Linked DNA regions of Homo sapiens. The protein of the gene in region 1 purifies or fractionates together with the protein of each later gene. This does not show direct contact. Each region holds a gene or a part of one and is shown on either strand. Other genes may lie near its edges.

Region 1 (3,500 bases):
TGGTCTCAGCCATCAGGAATGCAGCAGGACCATGTTGGCTTGGTGTGCCACGGCACCAAGAGAGAGTGGGGAAGTGCACAGGATGACACCAAGATGGGCCCTTGGTGGGACCCAGGGTGCAAGGACTCACCTTCCCGCCGATCATTGCGCAGGCACTTGACCTTGGGGATCCTGGTCAGGAGTAGACAGTCTTCCGCTGAGGATGCAAAGAGGAAGGCAAGCTCATTTAGACATGGGCATCAGGCCACTAGTGGTTTGGCTGCCATGAAAATTGCCCCATACTAAGCCCAGGAAAGGGTTGGGGATGGGGATTGGGAAGAGGTATGGTCATCACTACTGGCCGAAGGGTTGCCCTGCCCCACTCTCAGGCCAGACTGAGGAGTGCCTGTACCTATGGCAGTACTCCACTCCACCTCAGGGAGCACTAGAAAGCACGCTTGGGGGTGGCTACCAGCCCAGCTATCATCTGCATTTGGCAGTTGTAATAATGAAGGATGCTGTTGATTTTCTTTACTTTTTAAAAACAATATCATCTCACTAGAGTCCCATCCAAAGCAACACCCACCCTTCTTTCCCCTCCTTTGACACCAGGGAACAGGACCAGGGAGGGGTCCTAGAAAAGACAGGATCCCTGCTGGGGGCAGAAAGGTGTCTGCGATGGTCAGGACAACCTCAGGGTGCTTGCCTTGGTGTTCTGGGGAAACAGGGACGAGGGCGGAATGGAGGGCTGCAAAAAGGAAGGTGACTACTCACGATCTGAGCTGAAGTCATCCACTAAAATGATCTCCTGGATCAAGTTGGCAGGAGTTCGGTTCAGGACACTACAGTAGCAGTGGAAACAGAGAAAGAGCCTGGATTTAGGAACCACCTCCCATTTTTACCACTCCCGGGGCCGTGGGACTCCCCAGCCGCCCAGCTCCAGGGCCAGCATGCTGGGCGCTCCTACCTGAATCCTATTCTTGTCTAAGTTCATTGAGGAAATGGGGAGATGGGAGTTCAACTTGACCACAAGCCCAGGCTTAGCAGGAAGAATCCACCTCCAATCCACCTCTCTCTGACACTGACAGACACTGCTGGGCTTCCATCACCCTCCTGAGGCCTCCTGTCTAGCCCGGCCTCCCTCAGCTCCTGACACCTGCATTTCTGCCCTTGTCCTGGACATCTGACCTGGTGTTTGACTGTCGCATTCCTCTAACAGTTTGACTTCTGGGGTCTTCCTGGCCCTGATTCACCAGTCTCAGCCTCTCAGAAGTACAGGACTCAGCCTCCAGCACCTGCTGGGCTTCAAGCTGTCTGGCCACAGCGCCCAATCCCAATGTCCTCCCCTGCCAGCACCACTGAGATGAGAGTCCCATGGCTGGACTTACCTCTTCACTGTGCGCAGCAGGGTGGAACGGGCCTCATTGTGGAAGGTGATGATGACGCTGGTGGCTGGCAGGTCCGAGGAGTAGGACACAGATGGGCAGCTGAGAAGGGAGCACAGAGGTCAGAGCCAGCCATGAGGGCATCCTCAGGGCAGGTCAATGTTTTTCTTTGTCCAGTCTTGTGCCTGAGAATACTTCTGCCAGGCAGAGAAGGCACACCAACAGCCAGGCCAGAGGCCCCGCGCCTCCACCCCCATGCTGCATCCCACACTGGCCCAGAACCCCGATGCCACCCATCCTGGGGTCCTGGGAGGGAAGCAGCAGGTTGGGAGACCTTCCAAGGCCTGGGGGCTCTTTACCAGAGATCTCAGAGCCCCCAGAGGGGGCTCCCTAGTATATACAGATACTGCACCAGGCCCCAGGATACAGCCCTGACCACACTCTGTCGTATGGTGGGGGGTATGTGCGAGAGGGAAAACTACCTCTGTTTGTCCTGATACCCTAGAGTTTCTTCCTTCTCTCTTCCCAGCTCAGGACATTTGGTAGAATCTGCAGAGGAATCACCCCTACCCTGGCTGCCAGGGAATTCCTCCCTGTCACTGCCCAACACTGACAGCCCTGCTGCAGACAACAAGCTGGGGAGCAGTCTCACTCCTCCCAGGGTACTGGGTCCCCTGGAGGAAACAAGCCTCTGTTAAGACACCAAAGGCCTATCCCGTCACTTCCTCCCTCCCCAGCCATCCATAGACACCACATTTTCTGGCCTACTGGCTCCCTCTCCTCTAGAAAGGGAGTGAAAACAATTCATTCCTGCCAGACTTCATCCCTGTTGTTTCTGCGTATGCATTTATTTGAGCTCCTGGGGTGCTGGAAGGTGGCCTCCGTTGCTGGTTTTCATAGCAATCTTCTTTATTACAATTGCTCTCTGACTATTCCACCAGTGCCCGTTTTTTCATTGTGGCATTCATTCTACTGACAGCAGCTTACAGCCCGAATTCCCAGGCCTGTTTCCTGCCCTGCAGAGCAGACCAGGTCAGACAGGCAGGAGTCCCACTAGCCTGGGACCCCCCTGGGGGAAATCTTGAGAGGCTGTGCAATAATTCTCCTTGAGAGGGGGTGTAGGGTAGTGGTGGCGGAGGGAAATTTGCCTTCTACCCCTTGAGAAACCATGCTGTTCAAGGGCCTATGAATTGTGGGGGAGGGAGTGAGCTTGGCCGGCTGAGCTGGGGTGTGCTGGGAGCAGCAAATACCTCCTAAGTGTGCACCCTCCCAGTGCTGACCTCCAGGGCCCCAGTCCTCTGTCCTGATCCCCCAACCATCCGGTGCCCAGAAAGGAGGGAATCGGGACAGTGACGTCTCCCTGAAGGGGGCAAACCCACCCACACCCCATCTGAAGGGTGAACTTGACCTCCCCACCGGCTCCCTCCAGCCCTTTCGGCATGCATGCCTCTGGGATTGATGTTACTTAGCATGGGGGTTTATCTGGCTCCCAGGAGCCAGGAGCCTCTAAAGGGGTTTGTCCCAGCCCTGAGTTTTGAGTTTGGAGCTGATGGGGTTTTCTCTGTGATCCTCCTCGGCCTGTCTTATGTGGTTTATGTCCCTTTGCTCCCCTGGAGCGGGCTCCCTAGATTGAGGCTGGACCAGAAATGAACCTGACAATTTGGAGTCCAGCGGACACTACAGCCTGCAGGGCTGCAAGGAAGAGCAGCTTCTACCAGCAAACTGGCCCCACCATGGCAGGAGGCCTGCCCACTAAAGCCAGCACGTCCTTTGCTTCCCTACACGTGTGCATGCGTGCGCGCGTGCGCGCGCACACACACACACACACACACACACACACACACACACACACACACACACACACACACCCCGTGAGCCACCTCAGCTTTCTTTTTTCTTTTTTGAGACGGAGCCTTACTCTGGCACCCAGGCTGGAGTACGGTACTGCGATCTTGGCTCACTGCAACCTCTGCCTCCCAGGTTCAAGAGATTCTCCTGCCTTAGCCTCCCGAGTAGCTGAGATTACAGGTGCCCACCACCACACCCAGCTAATTTTTGTATTTTAGTAGAGACAGGGTTTCACCATGATAGGCAGGCTGGTCTTGAACTCCTGACCTCAAATGATCCACCCACCTC
Region 2 (3,500 bases), on another chromosome or scaffold:
ACCTCCCATACCTGGAACAGTGTTAACTGATCATGGCACCTGGCATGTTCTTTAAATCCTTTTCCACACAGTGCTCCAGGCAGACCACACCAATCAATCACAGGTGATACCATGTATGTTTCATGTACCATGTGGAACAGGTATGCCAGCCCTGGCCCAAACCTTAGCACAAGGGATGTGAACCAAGAACTGGGAAGACGCCCTGACTATAGTGGGAGAGGGGAGGGTCAGGATGTGTGGGTAAATAGGAAACATTCCTTTTGGGGGAGGATGCTAGGACAGACGCCTGGCCTAGGTGGGTTACCCTAGCCCAGCCCCTCCTGCCTGTGCCTCCCAAAGTGTGAGGATTACAGGTGTGAGCCACCACACCCAGCCTATTTTTATTTTTATTTATTTTATTTTATTTTATTTTATTTTATTTATTTTTATTTTTTGAGGCAGAGTCTACCTCTGTAACCCAGGCTGGAGTGCAGTGGCACAATCTTGGCTCACTGCAACCTCCGCCTCCCAGGTTCAAGCGATTCTCCTGCCTCAGCTTCCCAGGTAGCTGGGAAGTAGCTGGGACTACAGGCGTGCACCACCACACCGAGCTAATTTTTGTATTTTTAATAGAGACGGGGTTTCACCATGTTGCCCAGGCTGGTCTCAAACTTCTGACCTCAGGTGATCCACCCACCTTGGCCTCTCAAAGTGCTGGGACTACAGGCGTGAGCCACTGCACCCTGCCGCCTATTTTTATTTCCTTTAGAGACAGGGTCTCCCTCTGTTGCCCAGGCTAGAGTGAAGTGGGATGACCATGGCTCACTGCAGTCTTGAATTCCTGGGCTCAAGCAATCCTCCTACCTCAGCCTCCCAAAGTGCTGGGATTATAGGCACGAGCCACCATGCCTGGCCCAGGTCTGCATCATCTTTGCCTGACCACTGCAGTTGCCTCCTAAATGGCCCCCAGGCCCTCCATCCTGTCACTCAACAGGGACCAATTCCTACACTCCTCTGCCACAAGCCTGGAACAGAGCTCCTTAGCACAAGACAGGTGGTCCCCACTCCTTTGCTGATGCTGCAGCCTTGGCCTAAAACATTCTCTTTTCCCTGCCCTACGTACCAAAAGCCTACTCTGTGCTCAGGGCTCCACTCAAATGTCACCTCTCACTGTCCCAGCCTCTCCCTTGCCCTCAACCAGTCCCCTGACTGAATGGCCTCTCCTTCCTTTGGGAGTACCTTAATTACAGTTCTGTACCACTCTTAGGTCTGATATGCACCTTGGCTCAGTCTGATCTGCCGCTTACATAGGCGGTAACCAACCATCTTCCCTCTGCCCAGGCCCAGGGCCAGCACAAGGAAGGGACTCCAGAAATGAGGGTTGAATTCTGGAAGCAAGAAAAGAGGAGGTCCCCATGGCAGAGAGGAAAGAGTCAACCAGATGTGGGCCCTGCCCCTTACCAGCAGTGTGACCTTGGTCAAGTCATTCAACCTTTCTGGGCCTCAACGTCCCAGGGGTAGTGGTGAGAAAGGAGAGCACCAAGCTGCTCAGCCCTAGGGCCTGGACCACAGCATGTGCTCAGTAGTGATGGCTGATCCCTCTCCCATACCTTCTAGAAGGAGAGTGACAGGAGAGGCAAGGAAGACTCTCACCTGCTTTGGGGGTTGAAGGCAGGCTCTGTGGAGGGCTCTGGCCTTCCAGGTCCTGTGTGTCTGGTCCCAGGCCTGTCACCACGGTGGTCTCCTGCAGGTCTCCCTGGACTACTGTGTCTCCTGGGCCAGGAGGCTCCACACCACAAACATCACCTTCCAGGGTGCCCTAATGCAGATGCAGCAGTGAGCAGCTGCTAGCCCTCCCCGCCTCCCTTCCTTCCCACAGCAAATCTCCTCACCTTGACCTCAGTCTCCTCTGTTAGAATGCTGCCAGACTGAGGGCTTTCAGTCTGGAAGAGCGTCCCTGCGGTAGGAGAAAAGGCGCAGAAAAACCCACTGCCCCAGCTGAATTTCCTTTGCAGCCCTCTGTCCATCCCACGGGCCCCTACCAGGTTGGAAGAGGCAGGAAAAAGCCAGGATGGAATGAGAAAAGGAGTTTGTCAACTGAGATTAATGGAGGAACTAAAACGAACCAGCCTCCCTTTCTCTGAGGAAACTGAGAAACCCCAAAATATGGAGAATAGCTTTGTCCGGTAAGCTATGTCCTAAGCAGGGCCCAGTACCTTCTCCATCCATGGTCCCAGCTAATTCTTTCCCATCTGTCTTGGAGGGGCTGTGAGGGGCCTGCAGGGCTCTCTCAGATTCTGGGTCCATCCTGGATGCCGGGCCCAGTGTCTCCACTGGCAGGCTCTGGGAGGAGAAGTGCAAGGAGAAGGGCTGCACCCAAGAATGGGGCCCCAGCCCACATCCCAGAAACACACACATTCAGTCATGAGCTGGCCCAAAAAGGGGCTCGGGGCAGCACCAAGTGCTCGGCATTCCCCAGCCTCACTCACTGCGAGGAGGAACTTTCAGGGGCCAGGTTTCCGCTACACAGCGCCGCACCACCAGACCAAGGCACTGGTTGCAGTACAAACCTGGTGCCCCGCCTCCAGAAGGTGAGCTAGAGCCTACGTTTCCCTCCCATCAAGATCAGCAGCACTTCCTTCCCCACAGATGAACAACCCAGATATTATAATATTAAGGGTGGGAAGAAGGCAAGAGAACAAAGTCCCCTGGGTGCCCACGGGTCACAGTTATGCCTCCCAGGGTGTCCCTGCAGCTGCCCTCTCAACTGGACAACTACTTACATCTCTCAAGCCTTTCTGGCCTTTCCCGCTGGCCCCTGACACTCCCCCGACACCCGTCTCCCAGCAGCTGCTCACAGAAGCCCAACCCACCCCAACCACAGACAGCCTGTCTCCAGGGCACTCTCAGCCTGGACATCCAGCCCTGGCCACACAGCCTCGGCCTCCTCCCTCTGCCTACTCCCCTTCCATAGGGCCCTGGCCTGCCACCCGCCCCGTGGCTCCAACTATCCCTCTGAGAGTAATGCTTCACCTTAGTTATGTCTTTGCTATTTTCAAAACATTTTTATTCTCATGGTCCCCCCTACAAGGCAAAAATCATGACGCCCGTTTTACAGGAGAGGACAGAGAGGTGAAATGGCATGCCCAAGGTCCCCCAGCTGTCAACAAAGACACCTCAACAGGAGGCCAGGGCTCTGAGAGCCTGGTGCCCGTCTGCTCATACCTGCCTTCCCTCTGCCAGTGAGCCCCAGTCCATTATCTTGCTCCAGCGTCATCCCCAAGGTCAACTCCTTACTCCCAGCTGGGTTCCTCAAGGGCACCTCAAACTCAACATGTTGAAACTGAGCTTCTCTCCTCCTCCCCTCCTGGTGGCTCTAATATACAAAGTCGCTACGTCTTGGAACTCTCAGAGATGCCTTTGACAAATTTTTGCCATCCCTTCTCTAGCCACTCAGTTCCCCATCCTGCCAACCCCCTTCTCCCTCCTCAGTGGGCTTCTGCCCCACCAGCTGCTACCTG
Region 3 (3,500 bases), on another chromosome or scaffold:
AATGATTGATAGGAATGAGATATGCAAACAAAAAGACAGACATTCAAATAAGGGGAAAGTATCAGCAAAGGCAGGAAGGGAATCATGTACATGGCGAATACTGTAGACAATAAAGTACTCTGGTTGTGGCACAAAGTGGGTGAACAGCATGAGGTAAATACTGCAGGTATAAAGGACTGAGATTAAGGGCTCTGAATGCCGTGCTGAAGAATTAGACTTAATCTGGGAAGTTATTTGGAATCATGAAGATGCTCAAGGAGGGGAGACAACATACTGAAACAGTATCTTAGGAAGATTACTCTGGTGGCGAAATGCATAATGTATTAGTGTAGTCCCTCTTTATCCATGGTTTCAGTTACCCATGGTCAACCTTGGTATAAAAGTACTAAATAGAAAATTCTAGAAATAAACAATTCATGTTTTAAATTGCATGCCTTTCTGAGCAGCACGATGAAATCTTGCACCGTCTCACCCAGGATGTGAATCATTCTTTTGTTCAACATATCCACACTGTATGTGCTGCCTGCCCATTAGTTACTTAGTAGCCATCTTGGCTATCAGATCGACCATCGGGATATCTCACAGGGCTTGTGTTCATGTCACCCTTATTTTACTTAATAATGACCCCAAAGCACAAGAGTAGTGATGCTGGCAATTTGGATATGCCAAGGAGCCGCCATTAAGTGCTTTCTTTACATGAAAAGGTAAAAGTTCTTGACTTCATAAGAAAAACAAACAAAAATGTATGCTGAGGTTGCTTAGGATCTCTAAGAACAAATCTATCCATGAAACTGTGAAGAAGGAAAAGGAAATTTGTGCATATTATAAATAGGGTTCAGTACTATCCTCGGTTTTAGGCATTGGGGGCCTTGGAATGCAACCCCCAAGGATAAGGGGAGACTAGTGTATAGGGAAAAGAAGTTGAAAAGAACTTAAGAATCTATCTCAGTAATAGTTAATTAATATGTAATAACAGTTTATTACCACTCACGGTGGCCAGGCATTACTCTAAGCATTTTCTGTGTATAATTTCATATAATAACTTAGGTGATAGGTACTAATAGTATCCCCATTTTTTCAGATGAGGAAACTAAGGCACAGAGAAGTTAAGCTACTTGCCTAAGATCTTAAGATCTCCAACTAGAACACGGCAGAGCTCCAGAGCTTGAGCATTTAACCACTATTCCAAACTGCACCTCAGTTATCAAGATGCAAGAGGAGGAGGGCCCTCAGGCATGGAAAAGGATGAAGCTGAGGAAGACTCTCAAGGTGAAAGCAAAATAATCCAGTGTGAGGATAAAGGAGAAAGCAGTTGAACTTGACTCCTAGCTTTCAAGTTGCCTCATTTCCCCATCAGTGATATTGGTCCCGTTGACAGGAAAACTAAAAAAGAAAGTGCATAAAAGGCTACAATGAGTTCAGATGGTACAGTGTTTCCAACCTTGCTGGAACATAAGAATCACTCAGGGAGCTTGTTAAAAATACAGATTTCCAAATCTCATCTCAGATCTACTGAATCATAATTTCCAGGGTAGAGCCTGGAAAGCTATTGTTTACCCAGCATATACCAGGTGACTTTTATGATTAGATAAGTGTGACCATAAATCACTGAGGACATACAGAATTCAGGGTTAGAGAGTACAGCTGACCCTTGAACACAGGTTTGAATGTGTGGGTCCACTCATAGGTGGATTTTTTCTAACCAAACTTGGACTGAAAATACAGTGTCCTCAAGATGCAAAACCTGCACAATATGCAGAGCTGACTTTTCATACACACAGGTTCCACAGAGCTGACTGCTAAATTGAGTATGTGTGGATTTCAGTATGGGGGAATGTCTTGCAACCATCCCCCATGTATACCAAGGGACAACTGTAGAGCGTGCAAGCAGAGAATGCCTGAACAAAGTTGGAGATGTGACATCAGTTATCAGAAGGGAAGTCGAGGCTTTGCTCCTACAGGCAGAGTTGCAACTTAAAGGTGTAAAGAACACATAAGTTCACTAGGAAAATGAATATAATGAGAACAAAGGATCAGGGCCTACACCTTAGAAAAAGTCCATATTCGGGACAGTATAAAAAAGGAAGAAAGAAAAAAGCCAATGAAAGGTGAGAGACGAGTGACTGAAGAGGTCAGAGACGACAGTGAGGTGACACAGGAGCTATAGAAATGGAATTTCAATAAAAAGTGGGTGGTCAAATGTTGGGAAAAGATTAAGAGTGAGTAGGGGCAGAAAAAAACCACATACATTTCCCTTATAAACTAAAGAGGGAATAACTGAACTTCCAATCAAAGATCAAGTTTTTCTTGGCTGTTCACTGGAATCACCTGGGGAACTTTAAAAGCTGCCCAGAGTCTCACACTTGGAGATTCTGCTTTAACTCATCTAGGGTATGGCCTGACCAAGATTTTCAAAAGTTCCCTAGGGTAAAGCTTCTCAGAGTGTGGCAATGCACCAGAGCACCAGCATCACCTGGGAACATATTAGGAATCCTGGACCTACTGGACTAGAAACTCTGGAGGGAGGCTCGGCAATTAGTGATGCGGGGACATGCTTAAGTTTGAGAGTCCCTGTCCCAGGTGATTCTAACATGCAGCCAAGGCTGAGAATCACTGTGGCAGCAGACGGTGGCCAGCGGATATAATACAACAATATGACTAATTCCTAAAAGGTGCCATTCCTGACATAAGCTTATTTCTTTATATACTAGTAGTGAGTAAATATATTTAAGACAGAAAAACTCAGTATAAAAATAGCATAATCATCAAATCTTATATTAATATAAGGAATCAAGGAAAAAACGGTTAATCAGGCCCTAATTCAGAGAGAACATTCTACTTAAATAAGAATTCTAATTCAACATTCAATTTGTAAAAATACACTATGGAATTCTCCATTTTATAATCTGAAAGAGAGGAAATACAGTACAGTGGTTATACTGAAGTCAGGCCTAGGCTGAAATCTCAGCTCCATTCTTTCCTAGCTGTGTGACCCTGAACACATATCTTCACCCAAGATTTAGTTCTTTGAAAGTATACCTCATAGTAGTAAGACCAGGTATTCAGTAAACAGCAGTTTTTCATAATTATAATTATTGAACAGATATTTACTAATCCATGATATGCATAGCACATGGCAATTTAATTGGCAATAAAGCACAGTACACTGCACAGTATATAAAGGCCTCTCCTTTAGTCTTTATCTATTGTTCTTGGCAGTTTACTAACAGCAATGACTACTGAAAGCTTACTTACTTACTTGGGAAGGTGTGGAAGGAAAAGTACCACTGTGAATTAACAGATGCAAATACTGAGAGGGGACAGAAGGCACACAAAGGGAGGCACGGAGACAGCATGAGACAGGGAGTAGAAAGGTCTGGCTAAATCAGAAGGGTTACCTGGCTATCCAGATTTTATGCTGGAAAGATGAGTTAGGTTCAGAGAGTAGAGGTCTTAAGCAGCAGGCTGAGTTTAGAATGGTTTTCAAGCAATGGTGGATT
Region 4 (3,500 bases), on another chromosome or scaffold:
AAAATCCATTCTTTACTGGGGGGAAGAAATGAACTCTAAAACCATAAAAATGATGAACCAGTAGAAAATTTTCATCTGTAAATTTGAACCATAAAAGGATATGTTCATTTAGCATCATTTTTATATGTGTAAGCGGCATGTTACGCTATTATGGAATTGCCTTTGTAGCAGAGTGGACGAGGCAAAACCTTCCAAGTTTGATTATGGCCTAGGGCGCTGCAGTCAGTACGTGCACCGTGCATTTTTGTCAGACCACAGGATGTTTCACCTTTATCATTCTATTTCAGTTTCTCAAGTGTAGGTAGATGCTGTAGTAACTAGTGAAGTACAAATCCATGTAAAAATGTTAAACTCTCATCTGTTCGCTGTGTTTGTATTTTCTTAAAGGTAGGGATTAAAAGTGTAATAGGCCCACAGTCCCTTATCTGGAATCATTGGGCCAGATAAGTTTTAGAATTCAGAATTTTTCAGATTTTTCTAAAAGTAATAATATGCATATATTGTTGTTATGTAATACTTCCAGTGGGGTCTGGGACAAAATCCCATAATCAAACATTAGTATAGCAAAATATATATACATATATTCCCACTGAATGGATATGCATGAAGATTATGCATAGTTTAATATCAGTTCAGGTCAACTTTTATTGCCAAATAAGTTACAAAAAAAGATTTGTTTTTTAGAACTTTTTGGATTACAAAATGGTGATAGGGATTGTGGACTTGTCTTACTTTTAGTTATATACCTATTGAGAGTCTGTTAAATTTTTTTACTGTAAATAATATTTCCCATATTCCCAAAGGTTGGAAACCACAATCACATAAGCAGGGGTCACAAACCGAAGTGCCAGGTTGGGTAAAATAAATAAGTGAAATGGGAGGCGGGTATAGGACAGTAGGGAATGTGGGGACTGCAGTGAACTGGTGAATACATGTTCATTCAAAGGGGAGAGCTGCTCTTCAGTTCTAGCCACTTGTTGCCATGGTGAACGTGGGAGTAGTGAAGCTACATCTTCCATTTTTGATGATACTCCAGAATGCTGATTTTCATGTGAAGTTTCTTGATATTTAAATGTTGGCAACTAAAAAGAAAAAAACCCACTGTTGGCCAAAGAAAACATCTGAAAGCATTATCTGGCTGTGGGCTGCCTGCTTTCATTTGTAGTTTAGAGACTAATGCTTGTGGTATGAAAAGTTGTCAGTGAGCCGGGTGCAGTGGCCCATGCTTGTAATCTCAGCATTTTGGGAGGCTGAGGTGGGAGGATCACTTGAGACCAGGAGTTTGAGACCAGCCTGAGCAACATAGCAAGATCCTGTCTCTACACACGCAAAAAGTTTAGCCAGGCATGGTAGCATGTGCATGTAGTCCCCAGCTACTTGGGAGGCTCAGGTGGGAGGATCGCTTGAGCCTGGGAGGTCGAGGCTGCAGTGAACTGTGATCCTGCCACCGTGCTCCAGCCTGGGTGATGGAGTGAGACCCTGTCTCTAAATAAGTAATTTGTCAGTGGCATTCGTAATGAACTACTTTCTTGAGATATGGATGGGTGCATTTGCTTTATTGTTATTCATTATGCTTTACATACACACTATATGTTCTTTGCACATAAAATATTTCATAATAAAAATCTAAAGAAGTTGATAAGCACTTTATTTTAGCATTGCCTTATTTTCTAGCCATTAGGAAATTTTCATCTGTAAATTTGAAACTTTAAACTTATTTATCTTGGAAAAGGGACTGAAAGCCCCACTTCAAAAATAGGAGCCCTCTTTTTAAAAAGTAGGAGTTAAAAGAGGTTAGATTGTAATGTTCATTCCTTTCCAGGGCCATAGTGATCTGAAGTAACATTGGGTATTCACTGTTATATTGCGACAGAGAAATGTCCTCGATCTCCTTTCTTCTCAGACCGTTCCCCTGGGTGATCTCAGCCCCATAACTATCACCTCATGGTGACAGTTTTATGCCTCCAGCCCTGGGGTCTCTTTATCCCTAGAATGATGCTATCATCTCTCTCTTGAAAAATCTCTGCTGACATGGCCTGATAAAATTGAACCCATGAACTTCTTCCTCAAATTGGCTTCATTTCCCTCTATCTTCTAGTCTGTGAGTCACGAGACTTTGGCCTGCAGGGTAAATCCAGCCCACCGCTTGCTTTGTGAAAAAGTTTACTGGAACACAGCCACTCACTACAGTGGCAGGGTTGAATAGTTGCAACAGTGACCCATATGGCCTGCAACGCCTATGGTATTTATCCTCTGGCACTTCATAAGAAGCATGTGACCCCTGCCCTAGGGCATTAAATGCCCTCACACCCTCCCTAGTCACCTGTCAGTCCCATTCTTTTTCCTCCATCATCTCAGTCAGGTGAGGAGACTGGAAATTCTGCCTCTTTGATTATCTTTTTCTTTTTTTTTTTTTTTTTGAGACGGAGTCCCTCTCTGTCACTCAGTCTGGAGTGCAGTGGCATGATCTCGGCTCACTGCAACCTCTGTCTCCCGGGTTCAAGCGATTCTCCTGTCTCAGCCTCCTGAGTAGCTGGGACTACAGGCGCACACCACCATGTCCGGCTAATTTTTTTTTTTTTTTAATTTTTAGTAGAGACAGAGTTTCACCATGTTGGCCAGGCTGGTCTGGAACTGACCTTGATTATCTGTTGACTTCATCTTTGCTTCCCAGAGGCCATCCTTCCTGTTACCTTAATTAGGTGCTCATTATTTTTCACTTGGAGTCAAATTTGTCTTCCAGTTGGCTTTGCTGCCTTGAGCTGGCTTGAGCTGGATTGTATCTACAATTCCCCAACCTTCTGTTTGACATGGTCGGTCACCATTTTAATGATTATAGCTGCTCACCTCTAAATTACTTTTTCATGATGAATTCTCTAGAGGTTAGAATCACTAGATTTATAGGAAATTAATGTTTATATCATGACAGTATTGCCAGGTTGTCTCCTAAGATGATAATGCCGTCATTTAGTTTGTAGTGCAGAAAGTGATGTTGCGCAATAATGTGTGTCATTATGCATGACATGATGAATATCACATTTCACCATCACCTTAGTTGCATTAGATATTGTCCTTAAAAAATTTGTTATCTATTTAAATTTTTTCCACTAAGTTCAAAATGAATGTGTTCTTACATTTGTATTTCTTTATATGAGTTTTCTCTGTATGTGTCATTTGTTTGTCATGGAATTAACGTTTAGTTATCAGTTTCATTGCTCAGTTACCAATTTAGTTCAACAAATGTCTCTTGAGAACCTGTCAAATGATAGGGGCTGGGGTTAAAAATATAATTGATCCCTGGGGACTTGAATGTGGAGACAGAGCTACAAACAGATAATCTGAATGTAACCAGTTTTATCTATTCTAGCAGATCTTAGGTGCTGTTAATGAAATCTTAATGCCATTCTTTGATGTATTTATGTACTTTAATATAAACAAGTTAGCATTCTTGTTCATAGATATGTTCCTCAACAGATACAGTGATGAAACCTTGCACATTC
Region 5 (2,607 bases), on another chromosome or scaffold:
CAGCTAATTTTTGTATTTTTAATAGAGACGGGGTTTCACTATATTGGCCAGGATGGTCTCGATCTCTTGACCTCGTGATCCTCCTGCCTCAGCCTCCCAAAGTCCTGGGATTACAGGCATGAGCCATGGTGCCGGCCTTTTAAAGCATTTTAAATGGCATTTAGCCAGAGTTTATAATACTAATCCTAATGGTAACACATATACATTCACCTAAGTTGTGTCACAGGTAACGTGTATGTTAAAATATCTGCACTAAGCCCTAGTACATATGGATATGTAGAAAACAATACACACACACATACATACACACACACACACACACACACACACACCTTTATTTAAAATAAGGGAAAGCACCGTCACTCTTGGGGAAAAAGTCCTCACCCCTTTCCTTAGCCACGCATGATACACGAGAGGCTCTGTCCTTGAATGAATGGTCAACAGAGAATTCTCACATAGTAAGGAGTGTTGATTAATAATTAAATAATGACATCCACAAGTCAAACTTGAGCTGTTTTAATCAGATAATTTTACACATAAATTCCTAGTTAGCCAGATTGATTTGGTTATTCTAAATGGCCAAATAAATCTGCAACACACCACAATTATTTCTCCCACACATGATGAATAGCTAATAATTTTAAAAACCTATTGCCATACAGAACCATACTTTCTTACTATGTTATGCCCTGGGGGTTCGCTTCCACATGCCACATTGCTATCATGCTTTTCAATGAATTATGCATTATGCACGTCAGAAAACTTTAAAGAAACAAGCAAAAAAGTATGAAAAACAATAATTCATGTATTTTATTATAAAAGTGTGCTTTATTGTAAGGAAAATTTAAATATAACCAACAATACTGAAAATAATGTACGTGGCATTTATAGCCTTGGTCAAAGTTCTTTATTAAACAGGCGTTTGCTGTTCCATGAATAGTTAACAATTAGTTTATGCAACAAAATAGATAACTTGAAAAAGTGAGTAAGAATACAGAATGATGAACCAGGAATCTGGAGTTCTTTTGTGTTTTTTCTTGTTTAACAGACATGGCTTTTAAAATAAAATCTGAAATATAAAACAAGTCATCTTCATGTAGAGAGCTCTCTTTTCCTACAAGAAGGTTTTGCAAAAATGTTAAACAGTGTTCTAAAAATGTGGCTGAAGTTATACTTTACATACTTTAACTTCTTATATATACATTATCCAATTAACATTCTAACCACATTTTCATATACAAGTGGGACCATAAACATTCTCTAGTAAGACTACACTAGCACAGAGTAATTTTACCCATGTATATATATTCATTTGAAACCTGTTTCCCAAAATGAAATCACTCATTTAAAAGCAAACAACTGGTTAGAATTAATGTCTCTAGACACTGGGTCATGGGGCCTAGAAATCATGTAAGAGTATATTGCTTTGGTTGAATATAATTAAATTCATCTTATGTGGCAGCATACTGAGCATATCAATGAACAATGAAAATCTAGTACATCTGAGTTCTTTCTGCACTAATTTCAACTATGAGTCTACATTAAAGCAATGGCAAGGCCTAATGGTATATATGGTAAGGTCAGAAATTCATTTTGTCTTTATATAGGGTTATGCTCATAAAAATTTGTTTCTATTCCTCTAGAGGATGTTTTTAAGAATTAAAAAAACCAAACAAACCCATATTGGCTGCTGATCAATGAGATTGTGGGTTGGCAACCATCCTAAGAAAGAACGGAAACCCAAGGGAACAGATGTCTACATAGGACTGTATTATGCAGGCCTAGTGAAGAACAAAGAAATAAACTGTGGGCATGCTGATAAGGATCCCACATTATTTTTGGGATAGGAGAGATTTTTTAGGTGTAAAATCTTAAAGAATACAAAAAATGTCGGATCTTAAGTTTAAATCACTTTTTAAAAAAACAAAACTTTGTGACATTAAATGTCAAGATCAAATTTTTAAAGACATAGAATACAGAGAATTGCAAAATAAAAAAAAGCAGATATATGCTTGATGAGGGAAAAATGCATTAATGATCTCTCATCTAAAACACTGTTTTCCTTATTATCATAATGACTAAATTGCCTGTCCATAAAACCACTGGAATATGTATGTTACTGACATTATGCCAACAAAGTCAAAATGTACTTTATTGCAAAAATATAAAAAGTTTTAAAACTGCATATGATATTTTATACCATTTCACCAATAGGCCAAGGCCAGCACATAACTTATCAAGCTAGAAAACTTTAAAACAAAAATGATTAAAATTTTACTGTGTTTAATGAGTTATAAAAAAAAGTGATGCCATGCTGTGTAGCATGTTTAATTGCCAAGTGCCCTCTTACATGGGGATAGTCACTAATATGATTATCAGTCTGAATAAGTAAAACACATATAGCCTATGATAACATCCTTTAATTATCTTCTTAAACACAGATACTTTCTATATATTACAATCATTTTAATAAACCTTTCAGTCATAATTTTGTGGAGTACAAAGTCATTTTATCAGTATGTTGATTTTTTTATGAACTACTCTTTAGAAAGTGATGTTAAAGCCTATTGACTATTAAATCACTACTGTTTATTGATACGTTGTAAA
Region 6 (3,500 bases), on another chromosome or scaffold:
TGCAGCCAGGGCAACAGAGCAAGACTCTGTCAAAAAAAAAAAAAAAAAAAACTAAATTGGGTAGTCAAAGCACTATACCATAAAGAATACACCAATACATTCTACATTAGCTAAAACTTAAAAGAAATTTAGTGAAATTATGAACTTGACATCTGGTAAGCTCCTCTTTCATTAGTTTTGAGTAGCTAAAGTTCTGAAAAACTGTTCCATCTATGATTTCAATTCATTTGGGTGAAAACAAAAATTATATAAAGGGGGATGTGTGTTAGAGTTTTCTTTTTTCCCTTACTTGTTTTTAATTCAGACCACACAAGCTCTAGACTAGGTACCATGTTTTATCGGGTATAGTCATTATATTATGTAACAGTGACTGGCAAAGAGTACACATTCCATAAAAATGTATAGACTATTCAAAAAATAATGAATGAATGATCTAAGGATATGAACCAACCTGTCAGCAGTTCAGACTGATTTCACAGGATTTAGGGGTTTTTTTGAGACAGGGTCTCACTCTATCGCCCAGGCTGGAGTCCAGGGGCACAATCACAGCTCACTGCAGCCTCCACCTCCAGGGCTTAGGTGATCCTCCCACCTCAGTCTCTCAAGTAGTTGGGAATACAGGCGTGCACCACCACGCCAGTTAATTTTTTTGTATTTTTGTAGAGACAGGGTTTCGCCATACTGCCCAGGCTGGTCTTGAACTCCTGGGCTCAAGTGATCCACCCACCTCAGCCTCCCAAAGTGCTGGGATTACAGGCATGAACACCCAGCCTGATTTCACAGGATCAATCTTTGCAAAAAGAAAAATCAACTATATTAGTCACAAAATCATTTTGATCCCTATAGAACTAGTCTTGAAAACAAAGAAAAGCAACCTTTAGACAGTAAAAATACAGACACGGTAAAATCATGGACTTATTTATGATTTAGTCATTAAATACTATTAATATTAATTTTATAAATGAAAAGTTATAATTTAAAAATTATGGTGCATCAAACGAGACAGCCTTTAAAAAAGGCACACTGACTAATTTGTATATGCCTAAATAAATGTACAATGAGGTAAAATAAAATTGAAAATATATTAAAAAGAAAATTTTAATTACTATGATGGATAATTATGGATTACTAAGGATAAAGGAAAAATACCAAAGATAACTGTTACCATATCAACCAATAATCTGAAAACTTCCCTTTAATCATTTAATTCAAGTGCCTAAATACAAACCATTTGCCAGAACTAAGAAACAAAGGACTAATATCATGTTAATCCAATTCATAAAGGAAATATTAAATTTACTGTATCTGTCTGGGTGTCTTAGAGCATCCTTGTATTTTAATAATAGATTAAATAGAGCAGAAAATCTACAAATGGCACTTAAATTTAGGATAGTTATAATGTAGAATTTTATAAATGTATTTCAGATTCTATGATAAAAATGGCTGCTCTAAGACAGTTTTCCTACAAAATCCACTCACCATTTTAAGCATCATAAGTTGAAATTAACTTTCTAAAAACACACACACACTTTTCTCCTTCAGCACAATGAATCATCACTTAAGCTCTGGACCCAGAGACACAACTACAGAATCAATTGGGTTTCATAACCTCAAAGTGGAGAAAGTACTGTTATCTCGGTGGGCAGAATGTCATGCTTTTGAGTTGATGTTTCTAAGTCTTGCTGTTTTTCATTGTAATTTTGTACCCCTTCTCTCCCTTATTACTCTGTGAAAGGCTAGATTAGACAACAAATGTGTCAATTCTATCAAAACAATATTAAATAGATTCTGAGCACAAGCCACAAAGCTTTCTACAAATAAAATGCATGAATGTTAATAAAAGCTTCTTAAAGTGCTTCTGGACTGATCAGAGGCATCTTTCTGTTTATTTCTAGGTTCTGCACTCTGCAATGCTGACGTCAATCTTAACAAATAACCTCTAAACAAATAACCACAGAATGAATTGTTATATCTTCTCCCTGTCCATCCTTTGGAAATACAAACAAAAAGAAACAACAAGGAGCAGGCAAACTTATAGAAATCAAAAACCATGCTATTTTTTTAAATGACAGTCCCACATCTGTCACCACTGATGACCTCTTCAGGTCTAATACCTCTCAACCACCACTTTTAAATCCAAACTACTCTCTCCTTCTCGTAGCAACTCCAAAATGCACTGAAAAAAGTACATTTCTGAGCCTAAATTTACATATATTAGAGAAATTTTACTAAAGAGTCTCTTCAGATGTAAGAAGTAAAAAATTAGAAACAAAAGTGATTTGAAATTCCAGATCATAACTATCCTAAATTTAAGATAGGCTTCCTTCACCGCACATGATAATATTAATAATGCTATTATGCTTATCAACACCTCAAAAGAAAAGCAGCAGACCAAACATTCAAATTTTTTTGTTTTGCTTGGCAACATCAAAATACTTAATTTTTTCCTGTTTCTTGAAAACTCACAGTAAGGTAAGAAAGGACATTCACCAGTGAGCACGCTTGATGGTAGCAAGAACACTTTAGATTGCCCACAAGCAAAAGAGAAAAAGTATTTTGCAGATGTATTTCCACTTAACATTAGCATAACTTTTTTTTTACAGCTTTATACAGGCTTTCTTTTAAAGCAAAAATCACAACATTCTTTTTTAAGTGTCATGCTAAAGATAAATTATCTTTCTAGGTGTCTTGGAGCATCCTTGTATTTTAATAATAGATTAAACAGAACAGAAAATTTATAAATACCACTTAAATTTAGGATTTGAAATCTAAATTATGAAAAAACAAATTATGAAGAAAAAAATGCCTTTCAATGCTGTTTACATTTTACATCAAAACTTCATTAAGTTGTACAGAGTTGGTGAGGATTTGGGGAACCTAGCATTCTAATGCACTGTTGGTAGAAAATGTAAGCAAAAGCAACTTAGTGAGAAGATTCTAAATTCTAAATGTCATAAATATCCATTAGCCAAGCATTTCCCCTTGTTATAACTTATTCTATAAAAACACTCCCACAAGTACCTAGATACATATCAAATGACACTCATTTAGCATTGCTTCTATCAACAATGAAAAAAAGACAATAAGCGAAATGTCCATCAATATCAAATCGTTTAAGTAAACCATGGTAATTCTTATATAAAGAAATACTGCACAGCTGTTATAAAGAATGAAGTATCTATATGCACTGACTTGGAGCAATCTTCAAGGGTACATGGTTAAATGAAAAAAAGGAAACTGTAAAATAGCATGTGTAATATAAAAAAAAGAATTGGAGAGCCACGCATCAAAGCTGATGGCAGTCATCTTTGGGTGTATTAAGAACAATGTAAGTTATAAACTGTGTTTTTCTAATGTTTCCATGTCATTAAAGGAAGACATTAATGTAAAAACTTGTTTTAAGATCTTTTAAAATGTTATTTCTTAAATGCTTCATAGGAACTTTACAATGGCCCTATAAACACTTAGGTTTTTAAAATAGGTTCCATTCAACAAAATGT
Region 7 (2,865 bases), on another chromosome or scaffold:
GCTGGAGTGCAGTGGCATGATCTTGGCTCATTGCAGCCTTGACCACCTGAGCTCAAGCAATCCTCCCACCTCATCCCTGCCAAGTAGCTAGAACTACAGGCACACACCACCATGCCTGGCTAATTTTTTTGTAGAGACAGGGTTTCACTGTGTTGCCCAGGCTGGTCTCCAACTCCTGAGCTCAAGTGCGCCTCCTGCCTCAGCCTCCCAAAATGCTAGGATTACAGGCATAAGCCACCGAGCCCAGCCTAGTAAGGCAGTTTAATGCTATGTGCAAAAATCGTAACATGGTGCAGTTAACGCATTCCAATCAACCCCTGAACACGTACCTGTGATTCATCTCTTAATGTTCACTGACCAAACCTGTAACTTCAGCATACCCATGAGACAAACTGTTTTAAAATTTTGCTTTCAGGATTTCCAGTAGCAAGTGATATATAAAGATATTAGGTAGGTATTTAACAGTTATCACATCCAGGCCTGGCACGGTGGCTCACGCCTGTAATCCCAGCACTTTGGGAGGCCGAGGCGGGCGGATCACAAGGTCAGGAGATCGAGACCATCCTGGCTAACATCATCTCTACTAAAAATACAAAAATTAGCCGGGCGTGGTGGCGGGCACCTGTAGTCCCAGCTATTTGGGAGGCTGAGGCAGGAGAATGGCGTGATCCCAGGAGGCAGAGCTTGCAGTGAGCCGAGATCCGCCATTACACTCCGGCCTGGGCGACAGAGGGAGACTCCATCCCAAAAAACAACAACAACAACAAAAAAAAAAGTTGTCACATCCAAATTTTGAATTCAGGGACTTTATTTTCTTTGAACCCCCACAGCCAGCTTGTTTGGAGGCATCGGAATGCAGAACTGTTGCAGTTCAGTTGAAAGCAATGCCATCTAGTGGTGTGTGTACAGCAGGTCAAATGTTAAGCGTAGATTTTCTAGTAGAAAGTAAATTATCTTTAGGTCTTGCTAAAAAACATTATGTTTCAAGTTTGCCTCTTTTAACTGCTAAAAAGGGCAGCTACTAAAAACTAGGACTCAAAAACCTATTTTTAGTTCTTCCATCAAAATCTTACAAATAGAAGAGCTTCAGTATGCAAAGTATTTCTTGCAGTTAAATTTGTACATTACAAAATGTCTCTGGACGGATTCACAAGAAACTGATAATGTTGGTGGCTGCCTTTGGGGAGAGGACTGAGGAGCAGGATTTTTCACTGTATAGCTATAGAATTTTTATGTGTATGACCGTATTAAATTGTTTAAATACATGTTACTGAAATTTTTCTTACATAGGTCATGAATGAAAAACTTCAGCACTGCATGGAACTAACAGATCTAATGCGGAATCACCTGAATGAGAAGAGGGCACTCCGCTTGGAGTGGATGATTGTCATCCTCATTACCATAGAGGTAAGATGGAAATGCTCTGTACTATGATCAGTTACCATCTTTTCACAAATACAGGGGCTATGCTAATAAGATAGTTTGAGATAGAAAATTATTAGCAGAAAAGAGGCTGACTTTGTTATCATTACTAACTCTATTTGGAAGTTTCAAATTACTATTTGCAAATGCATTAAAAGTAATTCTTGAAAAGGTTCCACTTTTTAAAATTTGAGAGTAGACCTCAAGGTTCTGCTTTTAAAGACAGCATTTGGAAAAAGTTCTAGCTGTAAATTTATAATGTACAGCTCAACATCAAATCAAGCACCCGTACCTCCAATTCATAGGTTGCCACGTGAGAAAGGGCAAACATTTACCTTACTTCAGGAGCATTTCTCATTAATCACAATCTTGGAAGTCATTTTAGTTTGTACCCATAATTTGCCCGTCATGAAATAATTCTCACTTTCTATTCTAAGGTAATGTTTGAGCTGGGACGAGTATTTTTCTGATCAAGTGATAACCAAAGTGTCACTGCAAGAGATATTCAAGTTCTACAATCAAAAATTAAATGTTCGGCCCGGCGCGGTGCCTCATGCCTGTAATCCCAGCACTTTCGGAGGCCAAGAAGGGTGGCTTGAGATGAGATCAGGAGCTCAAGACAAGCCTGGCCAACATGGTGAAACCCCATCTCTACTAAAAATACCAAAATTAGCCAGGTGTGTTGGCACACGCCCGTCATCTCAGCTACTCAGGAGGCTGAGGCAGGAGAATCTCTTGAACTTGGGAGGCGGAGGTTGCAGTGAGCTAAGATCACACCACTGCACTCCAGCCAGGGCAACAGTGAGACTCAGTCTCAAAAATAAACAATAAAATAAATAAATAAATGTTCACTACTGGGTGATCATTTAATAGGTGTTTTTTTAATCAAGAAATTATCTTTTTCAGCCCAGTATATCGTGTGAATAAAATTATGAAGAATCTAGTGTTTGTATCTACATCACTGACAATTCAAAAGGTAAATATTTCAGTTAAGAACTTTGGAAAACTAGCATCTAGGAAATCTTGGCAAATCTTGGCAGATACTTCTTAAAGTCACAGGACTTAGGTTTTAGACACCACAACTTAACCTATCCCCAGGGAATCCCATCATGGCCCTGGCTAAGAGAATCATACAGGAACTGAAGTGTTTAAATCAATATATACAGGCCGGGCGCGGTGGCTCACGCCTGTAATCCCACTTTGGGAGGCCGAGGCGAGTGGATCACAAGGTCAGGAGATCGAGACCATCCTGGCTAACATTACACGGTGAAATCCCGTCTCTACTAAAAATACAAAAAATTAGCTGGGTGTGGTGGCAGGCGCCTGCAGTCCCAGCTACTCAGGAGGCTGAGGCAGGAGAATGGCATGAACCCGGGAGGCGGAGCTTGCAGTGAGCTGAGATCATGCCACTGCACTCCAGCCTGGGCATCAGAGAAAGACTCC

Evidence for each region.
Region 2: the proteins of GALNT16 (region 1) and PBXIP1 purify together in Homo sapiens (co-immunoprecipitation; one large-scale study listed by IntAct). This does not show direct contact.
Region 3: the proteins of GALNT16 (region 1) and SAAL1 purify together in Homo sapiens (co-immunoprecipitation; 2 studies listed by BioGRID and IntAct, with this or other methods). This does not show direct contact.
Region 4: the proteins of GALNT16 (region 1) and ARHGAP17 purify together in Homo sapiens (affinity purification with mass spectrometry; 2 studies listed by BioGRID and IntAct, with this or other methods). This does not show direct contact.
Region 5: the proteins of GALNT16 (region 1) and PRKAR2B purify together in Homo sapiens (co-immunoprecipitation; one large-scale study listed by IntAct). This does not show direct contact.
Region 6: the proteins of GALNT16 (region 1) and IPO8 purify together in Homo sapiens (co-immunoprecipitation; 3 studies listed by BioGRID and IntAct, with this or other methods). This does not show direct contact.
Region 7: the proteins of GALNT16 (region 1) and RMND1 purify together in Homo sapiens (affinity purification with mass spectrometry; 2 studies listed by BioGRID and IntAct, with this or other methods). This does not show direct contact.

Annotation. Positions count from the first base shown.
Region 1 is NC_000014.9:69,322,658-69,326,157, reverse strand, and holds part of GALNT16 (polypeptide N-acetylgalactosaminyltransferase 16), read right to left. Parts: intron 1,467-3,500; coding exon 1,368-1,466; intron 822-1,367; coding exon 754-821; intron 197-753; coding exon 131-196; intron 1-130. UniProt on the Homo sapiens protein: Catalyzes the initial reaction in O-linked oligosaccharide biosynthesis, the transfer of an N-acetyl-D-galactosamine residue to a serine or threonine residue on the protein receptor.
Region 2 is NC_000001.11:154,949,600-154,953,099, forward strand, and holds part of PBXIP1 (pre-B-cell leukemia transcription factor-interacting protein 1), read right to left. Parts: intron 2,323-3,500; coding exon 2,196-2,322; intron 1,937-2,195; coding exon 1,872-1,936; intron 1,799-1,871; coding exon 1,633-1,798; intron 1-1,632. UniProt on the Homo sapiens protein: Regulator of pre-B-cell leukemia transcription factors (BPXs) function. Inhibits the binding of PBX1-HOX complex to DNA and blocks the transcriptional activity of E2A-PBX1.
Region 3 is NC_000011.10:18,092,583-18,096,082, forward strand, and holds part of SAAL1 (protein SAAL1), read right to left. Parts: intron 1-3,500. UniProt on the Homo sapiens protein: Plays a role in promoting the proliferation of synovial fibroblasts in response to pro-inflammatory stimuli.
Region 4 is NC_000016.10:25,005,370-25,008,869, reverse strand, and holds part of ARHGAP17 (rho GTPase-activating protein 17), read left to right. Parts: intron 1-3,500. UniProt on the Homo sapiens protein: Rho GTPase-activating protein involved in the maintenance of tight junction by regulating the activity of CDC42, thereby playing a central role in apical polarity of epithelial cells.
Region 5 is NC_000007.14:107,159,705-107,162,311, reverse strand, and holds the end of PRKAR2B (cAMP-dependent protein kinase type II-beta regulatory subunit), read right to left. Parts: 3' UTR 501-2,607; downstream 1-500. UniProt on the Homo sapiens protein: Regulatory subunit of the cAMP-dependent protein kinases involved in cAMP signaling in cells. Type II regulatory chains mediate membrane association by binding to anchoring proteins, including the MAP2 kinase.
Region 6 is NC_000012.12:30,685,870-30,689,369, forward strand, and holds part of IPO8 (importin-8), read right to left. Parts: intron 22-3,500; exon of another isoform or gene 1-21. UniProt on the Homo sapiens protein: Involved in nuclear protein import, either by acting as autonomous nuclear transport receptor or as an adapter-like protein in association with the importin-beta subunit KPNB1.
Region 7 is NC_000006.12:151,404,262-151,407,126, reverse strand, and holds the end of RMND1 (required for meiotic nuclear division protein 1 homolog), read left to right. Parts: intron 1-1,290; coding exon 1,291-1,407; intron 1,408-1,859; coding exon 1,860-1,892; 3' UTR 1,893-2,365; downstream 2,366-2,865. UniProt on the Homo sapiens protein: Required for mitochondrial translation, possibly by coordinating the assembly or maintenance of the mitochondrial ribosome.